Regions from separate parts of the Homo sapiens genome. Here region 2 is linked to region 1. The links come from fine-mapping of genetic effects on gene expression. A gene starts in region 1. The other region holds a variant in brackets. All regions are shown on one strand. Distances are from middle to middle. Region 1 holds the start of HS2ST1 (heparan sulfate 2-O-sulfotransferase 1). Region 2 holds the start of LOC124904211 (a long non-coding RNA gene).

The links. PIP is the estimated chance that this variant, and not a neighbour inherited with it, causes the effect.
Region 2: its variant is the best candidate, but not a certain one, in a credible set for the expression of HS2ST1 in whole blood (TOPMed, PIP 0.51).

What each region holds. Positions count from the first base shown.
Region 1 is chr1:86,911,522-86,916,905 of GRCh38, forward strand. HS2ST1 (heparan sulfate 2-O-sulfotransferase 1) reads left to right here and starts at 3,114. Exons shown (of 7, transcript NM_012262.4): 1 at 3,114-3,639. The coding sequence starts at 3,516. SELENOF (selenoprotein F) reads right to left here and starts at 2,605. Exons shown (of 5, transcript NM_004261.5): 1 at 2,507-2,605. The coding sequence starts at 2,590. RefSeq lists enhancers at 1,902-2,516, 2,365-2,414, 2,517-3,131, 2,525-2,684, 2,735-2,854.
Region 2 is chr1:86,969,891-86,975,274 of GRCh38, forward strand. All of the region lies in intron 1 of HS2ST1 (heparan sulfate 2-O-sulfotransferase 1), which reads left to right. It overlaps LOC124904211 (a long non-coding RNA gene), which reads left to right and starts at 202. Exons shown (of 2, transcript XR_007066207.1): 1 at 202-5,153. The variant G/A (reference allele first, on the strand shown) is at 3,135.

The DNA.
Region 1 (5,384 bases):
CAATAAGCAGCCACTGAAGAGTTTTAATCATGACAGATTTAAATTTTAGGCAGATCACTTGATGCACTGTAGAGATTGGAAATGAAATAATGAGATGGGAGACTAGTTAAGGAAGCTGTTGTAATTCTAGGCAAAGATAGTAGCCTGAATATAAATACTAACTGTGGAAACAAAATTATTAAGTGGACTGGCTTAGAGATTTTTAAGGCTTTAACGACTAATTGAATTCAGACAGTGAAAGGAAAGAGGATTTAAAATGACTATTTTTTTTTTTTTTTTTGAGACAGAGTCCTGCTCTGTTACCCAGACTGGAGTGCAATGGTGCAATCTCGGCTCAGTGCAACCTCCGCCTCCTGGGTTCAAGTGATTCTCCTGCCTCAGCCTCCCGAGTAGGCATGCGCCACCACGCCCAGCTAATTTTTATATTTTTACTAGAGACGGGGTTTCACCGTGTTGGCCAGACTAGTCTTGAACTCCTGACCTCAGGTGATTTGCCCACCTCAGCCTCCCAAAGTGCACTGGAATGAGCCACCACAACTGGCCAAAAATGACTAATTTTTGGCTTGGGCAATTGGGAAGCTGACAAAGGCAAAGCCAACCATTTAGATTCTGAATACAGCCAGGGATAATTCAAACGGTGAACCAAGACGCTGTTATTTCTGAGGAGAGAGATGTTTATGGCCTGAGTGATTAACAATAAGTGGATGGATTTGAGATACTTAGGAATTAAAATCAGTAAGTTTCAGTAATTCCCTGGATATGATATATGTAAGGAAAGGAGTCAAACATGACATCCAAATTTCTAGTTTGGATTCTGTGCACAGTCACTGTGGTACGCTGTTTAATTAATTCCTATCATTATTACATATGGAATTAGTTAATTCCATAAATACCTCCTATCCTGGTATGCACACTTTGCAAAGTGACTCTGTCATTCCTCCCATGTAGAGATGAAATCTATTTCTCCATCCCTGAATGTGAACTAGTCTTGTGACTTGCTTTGAGAAATATGTGATGGAAGTAATATATGTGATTTCCAAGGCAAGGCTTTAGAAGGCATTGTAGCTTTTGCTCTTTTGGAGTGCTGCCCTGAGAGTGCCATGAAAAGAAGTTGGTCTAGCCGACTGGAGGATGAGAGGTCACACGGAACAGAACCAAGTCCTCGAGCTGACAGCACCAACTATAAACAGTGGTAATCCTGGAACCTTTCGGTTTAGCTGACCTACTAGGTCAACAAAAAGCATAAATGAGGCCAGGGGAAAACCAACATAGGTGGAGTAGTTCTACTCCACTGACCCAGAATTATGAGAAATCATTGCTGTTTTAAGCTACTAGGTTTTAGGGCGGTTACACAGCTATAGACAACTGACAGTCAAAGACAGAGGGAGATCAAAAAAAGACAACCTGAAATGTTATCTCGAATGACCTAAAGATGTGCAAAAACCCTTAAACAGTAGAAAGTTTAGGGAGAGGTGATCCAGTAATTCCTAGCACCAAATGCCTGAATAACAAGATAATTGGAATGTTAATTACAGAAGTTAAGAATCTACCTTTTGGTTAAAGTAGCCAAAGCAAACAGCCAGGATGCTTTCAAGCTCTTTGAGAAAGGTAAGTACAGGTGTTCATAGAGGACTCCGGTGTAGTCCCTTAACACCCTCAACCTTGGATAAGTAAATTAAACCAGGTCTCCTTATTAGAGACTACCCGAAGAATTAAGCTAGGATAAAAAAACGTAAAAGCTTTCAGCACTGTGCCTAAAATTTTACTATTCACACAGCAGAACATGGATATGAGAAGAAATAAGTTAAAAGTACACTTTTCCCATTCAAAGGTCACCCATCTATTCTGCCAATAGAGAAAAATGAAATAAAAAACGCTGCCTTAAAGAAGACAACGAACATCATTTAAAAAACTAACTTCAAAAATGAATTATACTTTGGTATAGATAACTCCTTTTACTCCAACAACATTGTTTAAAAGCACAAATCGCACTCAAGCGCAGCCAGCCGTATATGAATAGCAGAGGAGAACGGAAGTTAAGAGACTAACAGAAGTAGTGAAAATGAGAGAGCACGCGCGCGAGAGAGGTAAACACAAACTGTTCGCCTGGACCAACGACTTGAAGACTTGCCTCTAAGAGTTGGAAGTCTCGTCATGAGTCTCTTGCATTTCTGTCCATTTAAAAACAACCTCCACTTCTTGCCAAGCTTTATTATTCCCCCCTCCCACCTGGTGTGGTTTACAGATTGTTTTTAGCAAGAGCCGTATAAGAGAAGCTACGTACCCAAGACAATCTGAAATCAAGAGAAAACTGCTGCTAGAAACCCAAGGCGGGGAAGGAGAAGGATCAACCGAGAAATTAAGCCACGTTGCATTCTGGCCGCAGCAGTCATTAAGGAAGCGCAGTCCTCCCCACCCTTTTCAACCAGGACCGAATGTTGCGTCTTTCTCAGCTGCAATCACTCCTACTCTCCCTGTGGCAGCTGCGAAGGTGATCTACACTCACCGCTTGAAGCACAGTCGCCAACAACAACCGTAGCCCAAACGCCGGCACCAGACACCCACTCGGCCCAGCCGCCATCGCTACCATTTTCCGCAGGTTTCTGGCTGCCTAGAAGGACCCCTAAGCTAGGGGCGTCCACTCCAGAGCCTGATCCAAAACAGAACGCTAACGGCCGTTGCCCTTACATCTCTCATTTGGAAGTGACAGGTATTAAATAACGGCATATGAAAGCTTAAAAGTCATCAAATACAATCACTGGGTGCTTTCGATTACCCAAATCAGGCACTTGCCTAAACTCCCCACTTCTTTACTTCTGCGGTCTCCTTTCTTTTATTCACGACACTTCGTCAAGCAGCCAAGAAGCCACGCCTTCGCCAGTTTTAGCCCCGCCTTCTTCTCCAAGTTTACCCAATTGAATGTCGTCTTGATTGAGCTCTGTGGCAGAGGAAACCAACCGTAAACCGAACCAAGAGCGAAGCGCAGGGGCTCTTCCGTCCAATAAGCGGACCCGAACGGGGGGAGGGGCGGGGCTTCTGGTTGCCGAGCAGCGTACGCGGATGCGTGCGCGTGGTGGCGGAGGGGGATGGGCGGGGGCGGGGATGAGGGCGGCGCAGCCGCAGCGCCGGTGGAGGGGCGCGCGGCCGCGAGCAAAGGAGGGAGGGAAGGAAGGAAGAGAGGGAGGCGGGCAAGCAGGCGGGCGCGGGGGTCGGGGACTGAGGCAGTAGAGGGAGGCGAGAGCCCGGCAGCCGCTTCGCGCTGTTTGCTGCGCGGGCTTTTGGAGGGGGCGGCCGTTTAGTCGGCTGAGGAGAAGCGGACACCAGCGGCGTTGGTGATAGCGCCTGGGGGAGGGGGACTGGAGAGGCGAGAAGGGGGGTCGCTGCGGTGGTTCTCTCGCTGTCGCTCTCTCTTTGCCTCGCTCCCGGCTCGGCGGGCTCCTCCCGGCGTCTCTCTCGCCTCCGGGGTCCCGCTCCCCGCCCCCCGCGGTATGTCTTGATCCCGAGCAGCGGGTTTCATGGGGCTCCTCAGGATTATGATGCCGCCCAAGTTGCAGCTGCTGGCGGTGGTGGCCTTCGCGGTGGCGATGCTCTTCTTGGAAAACCAGATCCAGAAACTGGAGGAGTCCCGCTCGAAGCTAGGTGAGGAACTGAACTGCCCCGGGCTGAGTGCTGTGGAAGGGGCCGAGGAGGCGCTGCCGCCGGAGCAAGTGGGCGTTCATCTAACCTGGGGTCTGGCTCGGGGGCTGAAAGCGGTTTCAAAGAGAACCGGGAACAAGGGGCAGCGAGAGCACGAGCTCCAAGAATGGGTTGAATTAAGCTTGAGCGGCGTGCTGGGCTCGCGAGGTCACGGGGCAGAGGTTGCAAGGTTGGGCTTCCCTAGCCAAAGGGTAGCCCCGAAGTAGGCATTCCGCGGAGAGAGAGCGAGAGAGAAGACCGAACTCAGTGGGGAGCGTGTGTTGCTGGTCTCCGGAGACAGAAGCGCTTAGCATCGCGTGTTCTCTTGGAAGTCGTACAGGAAGCCCTGGCAATGTCAGATGAGGGGTATTCTAATTTGAGCTATGGGCATCTGGATACGAATTCTTTTGGGGGCTCATGAAGGGATAGGTGCGCAGAAATGGGAGGAGATGCTGGGATGACGGAGAGCAACATGTGAACACTGTAGCGAGTTGCACTCTTGTGCTCCGGGCAGCAAAGGACCTTGTAATTGCCAGCTGAGGGAGGCTGGCCGGGTAGTGCGGGAACGCGAGTGCAAAGCTTCATCGGAGTACGGAAATGAGGGTCCGGAGATTTAAATTCTTCTTTAGTGGCGCTAAACTGATGAATTGGGGCTTGAGAATAGGGATGCCTATGTATGTTGCTTCACGGCAGTGTTGATGTGAATTTCGAAGAGGAGGGAACGCTGAAGGGGAATTATGTAGTGAAGTTTGTGTTTGTTAAAGGAAAAGTAGGATTATGCGGAAAGCTAACCATATGGTTAAATACCTTAAAGGGTTAACAGGTGCTTTAATGGATGAGGGGGTCTAAAGTACAAAAAGTTGGTGTGAAGTTGTGAAAGACAGGCCAGAAAAAAGCACAGATAATAGGTACTTTCGGATTAATAGGGCACTTTGGCATTTGGAAGAGCTCAGCATGGAGAGCGAGAGTTAAAAGAATGACAGTGATAAATTTTGATTTAAAAATGTACATGGCACTTAAAAATCAGCTCAAGAGGATGTAATTTGAATATGGAAAAGTAATGTGAAGTGTTTTTTGCATACTCTCACCTCAAAATCATTTTAAATACCTTTTGAGAAGCCAGCAAAAACAAAAACAAAAAACCCTCAGCAGTGTAATTTAGACTAAGAAATAGATGTTACTGTGAGTGGATGATTAATTTTTAGGAAAAATGTACCAGAAAATAATTGTAATATTATGTATAGTAGCTATTTTGGTACAAGGCTTTGCAAAAGCCTTGACATTTTAAAGAGCCTTGAAAGAAAAACCATCAAGTAAATCTGAGTGAAGTGCAACTAAAGTTGGAGGAAAACTAGAGTTACTTCCAGCCCTCAATTCTAGAGTAAAATTTGAAGAGATACTCAGTTTATTTACGAATTCCTTTATTAATATGTATCTTGTGTGGTGGAAAAAAATGTCCACTTTAAATATTGAAGGTTATCCAGTCTGGTTTTTCTTTTCTTTTGGATCCATTTAGCGACATTCAGGGTCATATTCTGGCGTTATTAATGATCCAGCTCTACAGAAAAAAAGACTCCTCTTGAAGTGGAAAGTTATATTAAAATTAAAATTTGTACTTATTTTTTGTTTTGTTACTATTTGGAATTGTCTGGAGTTGATTTCTTAGACACGTTACAGTGGGTTAGAATGACTTAAATTTTTGATTTTCC
Region 2 (5,384 bases), 58 kb after region 1:
CGAGGCAGGTGGTTCACCTGAAGTCAGGAGTTCGAGACCAGCCTGACCAACGTGGAGAAACCTCGTCTCTACTAAATATACAAAATTAGCCAGGCGTGGTGGCACATGCCTGTAATCCCAGCTACTCGGGGGGCTGAGGCAGGAGAATCACTTGAACCTGGGAGGCAGAGATCGCGGTGAGTCAAGATCGCGCCATTGCACTCCAGCCTGGGCAACAAGAGTGAAACTCCATCTCAAAAAAAAAAAAAAAATGAGTATTTAGTTAAAGAGACAACTTTAACATTTTATAACAGAATGATTTTATTTTGTTTTGGTTATTCATCCTAACAATGCACATTTTACAAGTAATAATGTATTAATGCAAATAAACATGATTAAAATAGTTTCCTCTGTAAGCCATAACAGTGCTGGGAAGAATCCACAAGAAGTATAGGTCAGTTGTGAATAAAAAAACTGAATGAAAAATCTGCTTAATGAAATATAAATTAAAAGATTTTAAGCATAATTTTAATTTATAATTTTTTTTTTGAGACAGAGTCTTGCTCAGTTGCCCAGGCTGGAGTGCAGTGGCATGATCTCAGATCACTGCAGCCTCCACCTCCCGGGTTCAAGTGATTGTTGTGCCTCAGCCTCCCAAGTTGCTGGGACTACAGGCGTGCACCACCATGCTTGGCAAATTTTTGTTTTGAAATGGGGTTTCACCATGTTGGCCAGGCTGGTCTCGAACACCTGACCTCAAGTGATCCACCCTCCTTGGCCTCCCAAAGTGCTGGGATTGCAGGCATGAGCCACTGTGCCCTGCCTGTAATTTTTATTTAATTTTTCCGGTGATGGCATGAGTGAATGTCCACATTTAAAGTTATTTTGGTTCACACATGGCCTTTGTTTATTATTTATGAGAAAAAATTATAGAAATAATTTAAGGGTGGTACAGAAATGCAAATCTAGAGGACTTAAAATGTACATGAAAACTCCATTTGATATGACAAATAATTTACAGGTCAAATATTTTAATATTTATATATATAATAGATGCCAGTTAGCACAATTGACAAGTTCTCTTTTACGGAAAAGGCCCCAAAATGTCTTCTACTGATGCCAGATCAGTTGATTATCTAGGGATAGATATCTGAAATAAGCTAGGCCAATTTGATTTTCTCACTCAGGAATTACTTTATTGACTAATTTTATTAGTTCATTCAGTCAGCAAGTATTTATTGAAGGCCTGTTACATGTTTGGTTGCTAGAGATACAATGATGGAAAATTCAGATAAAGTTTCTGCTCAAACAAAGAAATTAAATTGGCTAGACATGGAAATAGTGGCATCCAAGAGGGAAGGTCTATACATTAGTGCTGTTAAGGCCTATAGAACTCCTCTGATTCCTGTCATTATTTAAAAAACAAAACAAAACAAAACAAAACAAAAAAAAACCTTGGCGGTTTAGTTATTTCTTCAGTTCTGTGAGCTACCCAAGCATCCTTCCAGTCTTTCCAATAAAACGGACCACCTCCTTCTTACTCTTATTTTTAATTTCTTAAATTTGTTTTAAGCCAAAAAACCCTAACCAATATATAAATTGGACCTAGGGTGGGGTTTTATTATGTACTCAGCTTAGGTCAGATGGTTAGATGTCTAGTCTTATATCTAACAGATTGGCTATGAAGATGTGGAATTTGAATAAAAGTGATAGCTTCTTTACACGTCCAATCTTAGAGTAGGGAAATGAGCATTTCACAGCAGAAAGTTTTGTTCTGAACAAAACAGAGTCCCTTGTAGTGTATATCTATCATATATACTGCATTATGTTTGGTTAGGACTTGAAAATTTTATTTCATTGCATCATGTTTTTGATCAAGAATTTGTAGGAATTTTGTGCAACAAGAGGTTATAATGTTAATACGTATTAATATTCTGACCGAGGTTGAAGTCTTCATTCTTGAAAGAAAAAAAAAATGCAAAAGTATTCTGATCTCAGAAGATATGAAAACTATCACTCTTCAGAATTACTGGCTTTGTGTTTTGAACTAGCTCTTTCAATAGTTTAACCTTCAACTTTTTATACTTGTCATAACTTGTTTATTAAATGAATCACTATGTCACCACATTCTATACTGATTTACATAGAGAAGATGTTCAGTAAAAGTTGGCATGATTTAAATTTTACAACAATTAACCATAGAGTTTCATCATAAGATTGGTTTAAGTGCATTCATTATTGCAGTTGCAAGGTTATGAGTTGTTAATGTTTCAGAAAAATTTTTAAGGACCCCTTTTAAAAAACGTTTTGTGTTTACATATATACATACCTCCTTCATCCTAGGTTTCACTTTCTCTAGTTTCAGTTAGCCAAGGTCAACCTTGGTCTGAAAATTGATGAGTACAGTATAATAAAATATTTTGAGAGGGAGAGAGAGAACATTCACATGGCTTGTATTACAATGTTATTATAATCTATTTAATAATTATTTTTTTTTAAGAGATGGAGGTCTCATTCTATCGCCCAGGCTGGAGTGCAGTGGTGTAATCATAGCTCACTGTAGCCTTGAACTCTAGGGCTCAAGCCATCCTCCTGGCTCAGCCCCAAGTAGCTGGGATTACAGCCAAGAACCACCACACCTGGCTATTTTATTATTGTTGCTGTTAATCTCTTATTGTGCCTAATTTGTAAATTAAACTTAATCATAGGTATGTATAGGATAAAACTTAGTACATATGTAGTGTTCAATATTGTTTGCAGTTTCAAGCATCCACTGGGGGTCTTGGGGCGCATCCCCTGGGGATAGGGTGCTGGGACTACTGTGTTCCTTACACAGTTTCATCTAATGTTAACATTTTGCATAACCATGGGACAGTTATTCAAACTAGGAGGTTGACATATATGTTATTAACTGCAGGCCTTATTTGAATTCCACGTGTTTTTCTTCTAATGCCTTTCTTCTGATCAGGATATAATCCAGGATTGCACATTAGATTTAGTTGTCTTTATTCTGCAGTCTATAATAGTTCTGCAGACTTTTTGTCTTCTATGGCTACACTTTGAGTTTGTACAATGTGCTCTCATGATTGGGCCAGAGTTATGCATATTTGACAACAATATCACAGAAACAATATGTCTTTTGTCATGGGGTTCAC[G/A]ATGTATGTCTTCTTTACTGGTGATAGCAACCTTGATCACTTGTTAAGGTGGTTTCTGCTGGGTTTCTCCACTGTAAAGCTATCTTTCCATTTGCAGTTAATACATTTCTTGGGAGACACTTTGAGACTATGCAGATAAAATCTAAGGATCTTTCTTTGTTCTTAAATTTTTTTTTTAATTTGTGTAAATTTATGGTCTTTTTTTTTTTTAAATCTAACTAATTACCAAGATCTATGGATTTATCATTCAAAATCAATCTTTCCTTTTTTTTGGATCAAGTTTAGATCAGTTTCCTTAAATTCATTTTATCATTCAATGATCAAGTATGCTAAAATGAAAAACGCTAGGGATGCGAAAATGAACAAGATGTAAATCTTGTAGTATCACCTAATAGTAGGCCTTGGCATTAGACAGATCTGATTTCAAACCCTAAATTCTAATCTTGGAGTCCTGTGAAGTTGTGCAAGTTGCTTACCTTTGTTGGGCCTCAAATTACCTCACAGAATTATTAGTAAGGGATAAATATGAAATTCTAGAAAGGCAAAACTAGTCTACAATGCCAGTACATTGTTGATTGCCTTGGGCTAAGAGTGGGAAGTTGACCCAAAGGGAGCTGAGGAACCTTTTGGGATGAAGGAAATATCTTCTATCTTAATTTTTTTCCCAAAACCTTATAGTGTACATTTGAAGTGAGTATATTTTATTGTAGGCAAATTATATTTTAATGAAATTGATTTGAAAACCAAGGTGGTTCTCCTTGAACCCAGTTTTCCATTTAATGGGATAAAATATGATATGTAGAATTCATAAGTCTTAAGGTTTTAGAAATCAGTCGTCTAGCTCTCCCTTATCCAGAGGAGTCTTGTGACAATTTAGCATTTGCAGAGCAATTTAAGAGTTTAAGTCTATAGTTGTGACAGAGTAAGAAATATATTTTTGGTCCTACCCCCAGTTCCTGACACAGAGAACATGAAAGCCCTTATAATTTCCTGAGTTGTAGGAGTACTGTCCTATATTCTGTTTTAATATTTGGTCATTGACCCTGGTTCCTGTCTCAGAACTCCTAAATCCCTTTAAATTTTTGGGGTGATAGTAGAGTCTTTTGTTCTAATGGGGTGACACTTGGGCTCCTGCATAGCTTCAGAATGGGGGCTGGTCACCAGAAAGTCCACACCATAATTAGAACCTTGGAAATTTCAGCCCCACTCCCATCTTCTGGAAAGGGGAGAGGGACTGGAGATTGAATTAATAATCGATTATACCTACATGATGAATGCTAAAAATTATTAAACTGTGGGATTTGGAGAGCTTCTAGGTTGCATTGAAATGAGTCCAGAGAGGCCATGGGAGTTCTGTGCACCTCCTCTACCTTGCCTTACACATCTCTTCCATTTGGCTGTTTCTGAGTTGCATTCATTATAATAAACTGGTAAATGTAACTAAAGTGCTTTCCTGAGTTTTGTGAATTGTCATAGTAAATTATCAAACCAAATGGAGGATGTCATGGAAACCTCTGATTTATAACCAATCCAAACAGAAGTTTGTGAATAACCTGAGGACCCTTACTTGGAACTGGCATCTGAAGTGGGAACAGTCTTGTGGGACTGAACCTTTAAGCTGTGGGTTCTGCACTAACTCTGAGCAGAATTGGGTTAAATTGTAGGACAGTCAGTTGGTGACTGCAGAGAATTGGAGCATTGCTTGGTATGGAAAACCCACACATTAAGACCCACTGGTGTTTCTGTGTGAGTATAGGAGAAAAACAATGTTTTCATTTAGTAGTCATCGCATTTTGGCATGTCTTTAGGTCTGAGACTCTCAAGTTATTCTTTTTCTTAAGTAGATTCCAAACTCAGGATCTTTCTGATCTCTTTTGGTCTCTTTAGAATCTTTTAAATTGATTATCTATGGAGTTTGATTACCTAGAGGTTCAAATTGACTGAAGTCAACTTCTTGGGACTCCTTTGAGTACAGAATTTTATTCTTCCCTTTGCAACCACAGAACTGGCTGGATTCTGGTGAGCTCCTGAAAGTTATTATTTGGTAATCTGTAGTTTTTAAGATTTGTTCGGTTGGCATACCCTTATGTATCTACATGAACCTTAAATTTAATTTATTCTCTTCCAAAGTACTCAAAGACTTTGGTAGAGAAAAAAGTTTTATACGCATATTTTAAAATCATGTTACTTTCCATGTGATCTAAAAGTCATTTTCTGTGGAAAAGAGATCAGTGTTTTAAAATTATAGCT